Regions from separate parts of the Homo sapiens genome. Here region 1 is linked to region 2. Evidence: fine-mapped expression QTL. A gene starts in region 2. The other region holds a variant in brackets. All regions are shown on one strand. Distances are from middle to middle.

The links. PIP is the estimated chance that this variant, and not a neighbour inherited with it, causes the effect.
Region 1: its variant is the best candidate, but not a certain one, in a credible set for the expression of HGFAC in cerebellum (GTEx, PIP 0.57).

The regions. Positions count from the first base shown.
Region 1 is chr4:3,283,633-3,288,006 of GRCh38, forward strand. It overlaps a transcript of RGS12 not described here. Among named protein-coding and RNA genes, the nearest start is that of RGS12, 7.2 kb to the right of the region's middle. The variant C/G (reference allele first, on the strand shown) is at 2,100.
Region 2 is chr4:3,439,595-3,443,968 of GRCh38, forward strand. It overlaps HGFAC (HGF activator), which reads left to right and starts at 2,374. Exons shown (of 14, transcript NM_001528.4): 1 at 2,374-2,524; 2 at 3,138-3,318; 3 at 3,456-3,552; 4 at 3,747-3,826. The coding sequence starts at 2,408. RGS12 (regulator of G protein signaling 12) reads left to right here. Exons shown (of 18, transcript NM_001394154.1): 18 at 1-319. The coding sequence ends at 90. RefSeq lists a silencer at 3,904-3,953.

The sequences.
Region 1 (4,374 bases), 160 kb before region 2:
AGACAGGGCAAGAGTCAGGTGCAGGGCCTTGTGGAAGGGGCGGCACAGGTGAACCCTCTTGGTAGGTTCAGGGCACAGGTGGGGAAGGAGTGGGCTCCTAAGGCGTGGGGTGGGGACTTCTCGACAGAAAGATGAAATTAAACTTTGAAGCCACTGCAGGAGGCAGCCCAGACTCCAGCCTGAGAGGACGAGCCTTCCCTTGTTTTCAAAGACTTCACCTCCCACCCCCTGCCCGTTGGGATTTGCTGCATCCCAGCGTAATCTGGACAGAGAGGCGAAAGGTTGCTCTGGGCCAAGGTCAACAATCTGTAGGAGCAGGCGTTTGGGGACACAGGTGGAATGGGGTTCCAGGAGTGCCAGGCTAAGCAGGAAGCCGTACGGGACTGCACTGGCTGATGGCATCCACCTGGGTTTGGGAATTGGGTTGTTGGCTTGAGCCCCAGGGGCGGCATGAGCAATCTGCTGGGCTGGCTGAAGCCCAGCTCACCCTGGCCAATGGGAAGCGCCAGCAGGATGCCCTGGAGGGGAGGGCTGAAGGGCGGGTGTGGGGGTGAATCTGTGTGTGCTGGCTGCTCAGCTGCTCCCTAAACTACCCCACCGCCCCGCTGGGCGACATTAAGAAACATCCGGCGGGGCGCATGGCTCATGCCTGTAATCCCAGCGCTTTGGGAGGCTGAGGCTAGGAGTTCAAGATCAGCCTGGCCAACATGGTGAAACCCCTCTCTACTGAAAATCACAAAAATTAGCCGAGCATGGTGGCAGGTGCCTGTAGTCCCAGCTATTTGGGAGGCTGAGGCAGGAGAATCACTTGAACCTGGGAGGCAGAGGTTGCGGTGAGCCGAGATTACGCCACTACACTGCAGGCTGGGCAACAGAGCGAAACTCCATCTAAAAAAAAAAAAAAAAAGCATTCAGTGAGGGCCGGCACGGTGGTGCATGCCTGTAATCTCAACACTCAGGAGGCTGAGGTAGGAGGATGGCTTGAGTCTGGGAAGTTGAGGCTGCAGTGAGCTGTGATCCCACTGCTACACTCTAGCCTGGGCAACAGGGCAAGACCCTATCTCAAAAAAAAAAAAAAAAAAAAAAAAGGACTATCCAGTGGGAGGCAGAGGTAGCAGCCAGGCCACGGTGCTCAGTGTTTGGTCGAATGCCAGTCTAGATGTCACCGTGAAGGTATTTTTTAGATAAGGTTAACATTTAAGTCAGGGAACTGCACGTGAGGCCAATGACCTTCCACGGTGTGGGTGGGCCTCATCTGAGCAGTTGAAGGGCTTGAGAGGAAAAAGGCTCCCAAGGAGGAGGGAAGGCTGCCAGCACGGTGCTCTGGACTTGAGGGGCGGCGGCAGCTCCTCCCCAGGTCTCCAGCCAGCCAGCGCCTCCCTGTAGAATGCAGACCTGCCGGCCCCCACCAGCCCATGCATCAATTTCTTAAAATCAGTCTCTCCCCTTCCTCTCTTTCTGCATCTCTGTCTATCTGCACACCCTACTGGATTCTGTTTCTCTGGACAGCACTGATACGGAGAGCCCCATAGCATTCTTGGGGCATTTGCAGAAAAGTGGCCCCCACTGAGGACTTGACAGGTGGCCCAGCTGGTGGGTCTTGTCTGGATGGTGGGACAGCAGAGGCAGGGAATCCGGACCTGCGGGCTGGCTGCAGTAAGGGGAGACCGAGGCGGCCGCTCAGGCAGCGTGCGGAAACCATTCCTTCAGCTCCCGCTCTCTATTCATAGCAAGTGCTACGGCTCCAGCAGAGGCCTGTTTTGGGGGTCATGACTGAAGTGACCAGAGCAATGTGAGGGACAAAGGGTGTGCCAGGGTGGCGTGGCTGGGCCTCTGGGAGCACGGGGGCCTGGAAGGAAGGGGGACTGGTGCCCAGCGCTCTGCTACACCTCCCTTTGTCCTGTAAGTCCTGTGTCCGTGGCCTCCTCAGCCCTGGAAGCTCCCAGGGCCCAAGGACGCAGGCCACGTGGTGGCCTCCAGGACCCGAGCCGCGCGCTTAACCTCTCGGGCTGGGTCCGGCGGGCTGCCCCGCCCCGGAACAAGCCCCAGCCCCACTGTCACCGTTGGGGGTGAGCTCGAGGTGGTGCCTCCCGGCTCCT[C/G]CTCATCCCCTCTGCCCCCACCCCAGTCCCCTTCCAGAGCAGACTTCTGTCGACTGGCTGGTCAGAGCCACCAGGCTGTGTCCTGGCACAGGAGTTGTGCATGGGCGGGACTCTGGGTTCTCATGCCCTGGGGAGCGCCCGCGCCTGGGGCAGGGCTCCGTAGACTCCTTTGTCACCCCTCAGCTTCGCCGTGAGGAAAATGTCCTGCAAACACCAGCCCAGATGGAGGGAGCCACGGCTTCACCACTTCCTGCCGGTGTGCCGGGCTGCGCTCCAGGGACCGCTGGGGCCGTCACCAAAAGAACGGAGCCCAGGGAACGTGGAGAGGAGCCCAGATGCCTGAGGTGAGCAAGGCAGTGCCTCCGTCCAGCCTGGCATGTCCTTCTGGTTATTCGTGAGGCCACCACAGGGAGGGTCACCAACTGTCTGTTTTGCCTAGGACCGAGGAGGTTCCAGGGGTGCAGGACCTTTGATGCTTAGAGCCAGGAGAGGCCACTCGGCCACCCTAAGGGCAGGTCTTCTGCCCCAGGCCGCGTGTGGTTTCTTTCGACACACTGAGGAAGCCTTTCTCCTGAGATCACCAAATGCAGCCTGCCCGGTTTCTGTTCCCCATTACTGCGTATGCGGTGGGCAAACCTCCTCCGGCCCTGAAAGCTCCTGGCTGCCTGGGGATTTTCTGTGTGCTCCTACATAAAAAGCAGCTTCTGTCACTCAACTGGCAAATACAGTCTCAATTCAGAGTCAGTCCAAATCCATTACCCTAACCCTGAGATATTAATCCAAGCTCCATTCTTGGTTTAAAGCCAGCCCCTGTGGGCCCTGCTCCCCCGGCCTCCTGGGGTGGAAGCCTGTGCTGGGGGCTGCGGTGTGGGGTTTGCTCTCCTCCCTCCCGCAGGTGGATGCAGGGCGAGGGAGTGAGGAGGAATGAGGGTCAGGGGCAGGAAAGGCAGCCTGTGGCAGCCAGGCGGGGCCAGCGCTGCACACCGGGGAAAGGCTCAGCGGGAACGTGTTCCCAGCACTTTGTCTCCCCAGGCCTCAGTTTCTGCATCTGTAAACGGGCATGTGCAGGGTTGTGAGAGGGTCAGAGAGCCCCCGTCAGGCCCTTAGTGCGCTGCTAGGCACCGAATGGGAGCCCGGTCAGCAGTGCCTGCGGGAGCCGACGCTGCTCCGGCAGGATTGAGTGGAATTCCGCCCAGGCCGGGAGCTCCCTCGGGCTGGGGAGGCCTCGGGGACCTGGCTATGATGGTGATCTGGGACTTGATGGGTGAATGGGTTGGGGCCAGCATCAGCTTTGGGCATATATTAGGGAGTTACTGAGGAAGACAGAGAAAAAGGGGCACCTAGTTCTTTTATAATCCTCCGGGAAAAGGTGAGCTCTGAGCGCTACCTGCTCACTGAACAGCGGAAGAGCGAGCAGCGCCCAGGCCCCGACGCTGTGCAGAGCCCCGGGAGGGCGGCGTTTGCGTGATTGTTCAAGGTGGACTCGAAGAGCAACATTTAAAACATTTCCGATGTCATTTTCTTGTTTTGAGGCGATGCTTTCTGATTTATTTCACGTTTATTTTCTGTAAAGGAAAACACCCTCCTAAACATACATTTTCTCAAGGCACATCACATGGTCTGAAAAAAAAAACAAAAAAAGGACATCTTCTCCAAATTGGTATTCCTCCAGCTGGAGCAGCTCTGTTGCTGCCAAGCTTCGGTTCTTTGACAAGAAGAGACATTTCAAAGCCGGGTCCCACAGGAGGGGTTCACGCCACACACGTGGCCAAGCCCTTCCTGATTCCTGAACCTGCCCCTGCCCGCTGGCCTTTGGGACCTCCCCAGCCCCTGGCCCTGGCGGCCCGAGGAAGTTCTGTGTAGGAATAATATGGTCTACTTAATTAATGCATATTTTATTTGGTGACAACGTCCCTAATTGCCATGAGCTCTACTTAGTAACAATATGCTCTATTTAATTAACTTTGTGTATTCTGGTTAAAAACATTATGCTTCATTTAATTTATTTCATCTGCTCACTGATGGTGAATTCCACAACACGGGCACAGGAGGCTGCCCCACCTGGAAGGTAGTCCCGGGACAGAGCATTTCAGATGTGGCAGAGTGCAGGCAAGGGGCTGGCAGGCTCATTTGTCCCACGGGGCCTGGGTGGGGGCCCTCAGCTCCCACATCTCCCCCAAACTCACCGGGCCCCACACAAACCTGTCCCCTTAGCTCTGTTTGGGGGCACGCCAGCCCCTTCGCTCCATCCCTGCCCTGCTTCCCAGCGTCAGCG
Region 2 (4,374 bases):
CCTCCTACATCAGACCTCCCTGGCTTGGGCCCCGTCCCGGGTGAGCCTGCTAAGCCCAAGACCAGCGCTCACCACGCCACCTTCGTCTGAGCTGCCCTGGCCTGGCCAACTCTCCTGTGGACATGTCGGGGTGGGGCAGCCCAGGTGGATTCTGTGGGCCTCAGGGGGGCCACCCTGGCCACCACACCCTCAGGAGCCCAGCCAGGAGGGCAGGGGGTGACCTCGCTGGAGGCACTGGCCCCGGACATTCGCCATGCTGGCCATGGGGCTCCCTGGCCCTGGCCTCCTGCTGCCCAATAAAGCATTTCTGAGGACCCAAGCGTCGGCCTGGTGCTGGGTGCTGGGGACACAGACTCCTCGTTCTCGGGGACTCCGAGCACATCCCCAGGAGGTCATGCAGGAAACAGAGGGGCCTGAGGAGGAGAAGTGCCCCAGGGTAAGGTCAAGGGGGCTTTGAGGAGAGGGAAGCTTGGCTCCTGGGGCCTGAGGGCCAGGACCAGATGGCAGAGACTGGCTCTCGCCGTCACGTGGGGACCCTGCCCCAGCCTTGTTTAGCAGGGTGGTCTGAGGGCCTTTCTGGGGAGGGACCATGTAAACTGCAACTGGACGGCAGAGGAAGTCTAGAAAGAGCCCTGGGCCTGTGCCAAGGCCCTGGGGCTAAGGAGGGTCTGATTACAGAAAGGGAACCAGGTGTGGCTGCAGGGGAGGCCGGGGCCTTGGGGGCTGGGTTGAGTCGGAAGAGGCAGGGCCATTCCCCAGGTTGCCTTGATGGAACCCCTAAAGCCAAGTACCCTCGGTACAGGGTGGTTGGTGAGCTCCTCAGACCATCCTAGAGGCCCGAGAGCACAGCCAGTCCCCTGGGGCTGTTCTAGAAGCTTCCAGGGAGTGGATGCACCCCACTTAGTGGTGCTCTAGGAAGGGGGCTGGGGGAGGGGTCGGAATGGAAGATGAAGCCCAGTGCCAGCTGTGTGTACCACCCACCACAAGCCCGCATCCATCCTGCTCCCAGCACCCACCATGCCTCCACATTCACCGTGCCCCCAGGGCCCACCATGACCTCCCCCCCAACCCCCAACCCCCCATTCACCGTGCCCCCAGCACCCACCATGCCTCCACATTCACCGTGCCCCCAGGGCCCACCATGACCTCCCCCCCAACCCCCAACCCCCCATTCACCGTGCCCCAGGGCCCACCATGACCTCCCCCCCAACCCCCAACCCCCCATTCACCGTGCCCCCAGGGCCCACCACGCCTCCATGTGCACTGTGCCCCCTGGGGCCCACGGTGTCAAGCTGGGTGGTCAGTGGGTGTCCATTCTCTCTCCCTCTGCACAGACAGGCAAATGGGGGGCAGAGAGAGGGGTTTTAGGGGATACAGGGAGGCAGCTTCAGCCCTCGCTGGTCTCCAGGCCACAGTGGTTCACTCACCCCTCCTCCCACCTCGGCAGCCCTGGGATGTCGCTGCTGACTCAGGAGGAACCCGAGGTGCCGTAGCGGCTGCTCCAATATTGCAGAAGAGGTTCCTCAGGCAGCTCTGCCCACAGCCCCAAGTCACGAATTCCGTGACTCCAGCTCCATCCCAGGCCCCAGGGTACCTGGCCCAGGGTTGTGCTGCCGCAGACTTGGCCTGTACCATCCAGGCGGCGGTGGGGAGCTGGGGTTGGAAAGGCTTCTTGGAGTGGACTCCTGGGTCTGTCTGGGAGACGGGGAGGAAGGGACACTCTGAACATCACCAGGGGCTGCTGGGGGGCCCTGGCCACCCCCAGAGTCAGAACAGGCAGGTGGGGCAGGATCTCAGGTCATCCTATGCTACACTCAGCCATTGCGTGGCCCCTCTCCTCCCTGTGCCTGGCCTTTTGGCCAGCCCTGGGGCCACCGAGAGGATGCAGCACCGAACCCTCCAGGAGCCCCCAGTGCTGCCGTCTGTGGGACAGGGACAATCCCATCCCCACTGCTACTGTCTGTGCTGTGCTGGGCACAGAGCTGGACACCTCCAAGGCCCAGCGCCCGTAGTGGCTCTCATCATGGACAATTCACAGGCAGATGGTGGCCAGCTCTGTGGCCTGCAGGGACTGGGAGCGGCGCCAGACCATCTAGGCCCCAACCTATCTGCATTATCCTGGAAGACTTCCTGGAGGAGGCTTCTAAGCTGAGGCCCAAGGACCATGTCAGGTCTAGGACTAGGACCAGTGCAGGCCGAGGCCAGAGAGACAGCTGGGCTTCCAGGTAGGGTCAAAGTGAGGTGGGCAGCAGGTGTGGGGGCCAGGGGACTCGGGGACTTCCTCTCCGGCTGGGCCCGCCTGACGTGGGAGGCAGCCAGGGTTAATCATTTCCACGAAGCCTTGACCCCACCTGCCTTGGCCGCTCTGCTCCCGCCTCCCACTGCCCCTCAGGCCAGCTCAGGAGCCATGGGGCGCTGGGCCTGGGTCCCCAGCCCCTGGCCCCCACCGGGGCTGGGCCCCTTCCTCCTCCTCCTCCTGCTGCTGCTGCTGCTGCCACGGGGGTTCCAGCCCCAGCCTGGCGGGGTGAGCACTGACCTTGTCGCAGTGCGACCAGAGGTTCCCAGTGGCTACTTGGGGTCCTTGGGAGGAGGCCAGAGGGAGGGTCGCCACAGAGCGTGGGGATTTGAGGGGGCGGGGGTCCGAGCAGGGGGCTTACGTTGAAAGCTGGCCCTCACAGGGCAGGTGGGTGCTGGACTGGCCTTGGAGGCTGGGGCCTGGGCTCACGGAGCCCCACCTGGGGGCTGTCATCCCTGTGCGGCCTGGCCTGGGCCCCTATGGGTCTGGGGGCTGCCCCCTCTCTCTGGACCTCTGTTGGGTCTGGATGCGTGAGGTTGGGGGAACCTCCCAGGGCCTCCTAGCTGCTCCCATCACCAAAAACTGACGTCAGGGTTTAAGCTTGGTGGGTAGCAGTGCCTGGGCCTGGGCAGTGACCCTGAGCAGGTGTTAACTAGGGGCCGAGGGCGGGGAAGGTGTCAGGGCCTGGCTGAGGCCTCAGGAATGTCGTGTGTCCTCCTGGAACCTGCTCCGAGATCTGGGGGCCCCAGTATGGAAACAGGCTCAGGGCTGTGACCTCCTGCCCGGCAGGACCTGAGTGTGAGGGTCTGTCCCACACTGACACCCTTTCTGCTCCTCCTAGAACCGTACGGAGTCCCCAGAACCTAATGCCACAGCGACCCCTGCGATCCCCACTATCCTGGTGACCTCTGTGACCTCTGAGACCCCAGCAACAAGTGCTCCAGAGGCAGAGGGACCCCAAAGTGGGGGGCTCCCGCCCCCGCCCAGGGCAGTTCCCTCGAGCAGTAGCCCCCAGGCCCAAGGTGGGTCAGGTGGGCCTGGGAGGAGGTGTCGTGCTTCACCTTAGGGCTGGGTGGGAGGAGCATGGCTGCGGCTGGAGGTCCTGAGGGGCTCGGGTGCCCCTCGAGGGAGCCCTGACCCTGCCACCCCCTCCCCACAGCACTCACCGAGGACGGGAGGCCCTGCAGGTTCCCCTTCCGCTACGGGGGCCGCATGCTGCATGCCTGCACTTCGGAGGGCAGTGCACACAGGAAGTGGTGGGTCCGGGCAGCCGGGGCACCCGAGCTGGGGTCACCTGCCCCACGCTGCCTGCTTTTCTGGGAGCCGGGCACACAGTAGGCGCTCACCACGCAGCAGGCGGACCCAGTGAACCCAGAGACCCTCCAGGGTGGTGGGGTGGGGTGGGGGGCCTCTGCCTGGGACCCCCATGCACGCAGGTGTCGCCCCCCAGGTGTGCCACAACTCACAACTACGACCGGGACAGGGCCTGGGGCTACTGTGTGGAGGCCACCCCGCCTCCAGGGGGCCCAGGTGGGTGCTGGGTTGGGTAGCCTGGGGCGGGCAGGGGGCACTGGGCCAGGCCAGAAGGGCCAAGGGGAGGATGGGGCGGACCCGGGCAGGGGTCCTGGCTGGAGGGGAGCAGAAGAGGAGCTCTGGGATTAACCCCGGTGGGTGCCACTTAGGGCCAGAGCCTCTCCCAGGTGGGACCTGCGTCTCATGGTGGCTGCGCGGCCATCGCTGGGGCCAAGGCGCCGCCTGGTGGTGAGGCCGGGCCCTGCAGCCACACAGGCGTGCCCCAGGCAGGGGACAGGTGGGCAGGGTCTGTGGGGTGCGGTGCCAGCCGCCCTGCTCACATGGGTCCTGGGACACATGGGAGGGGTCTGCTGCCTGACAGTGTGGGTGTCAGGCTTCCAGGAAGCCACGTGCACAGCTGGGCCAGTGGCCCAGGTGTTGAGTGGGGGACGCTGGGAGGAAGGGGAGGTCTGTGCCCCTCCCAGGGACCTTGCACCCCGAGGGGCGTAGAGAGGGCCCCTTTGCTCTCAGAGCCCCTCACTGGGGCCTGATGGACGCCTTAGCAA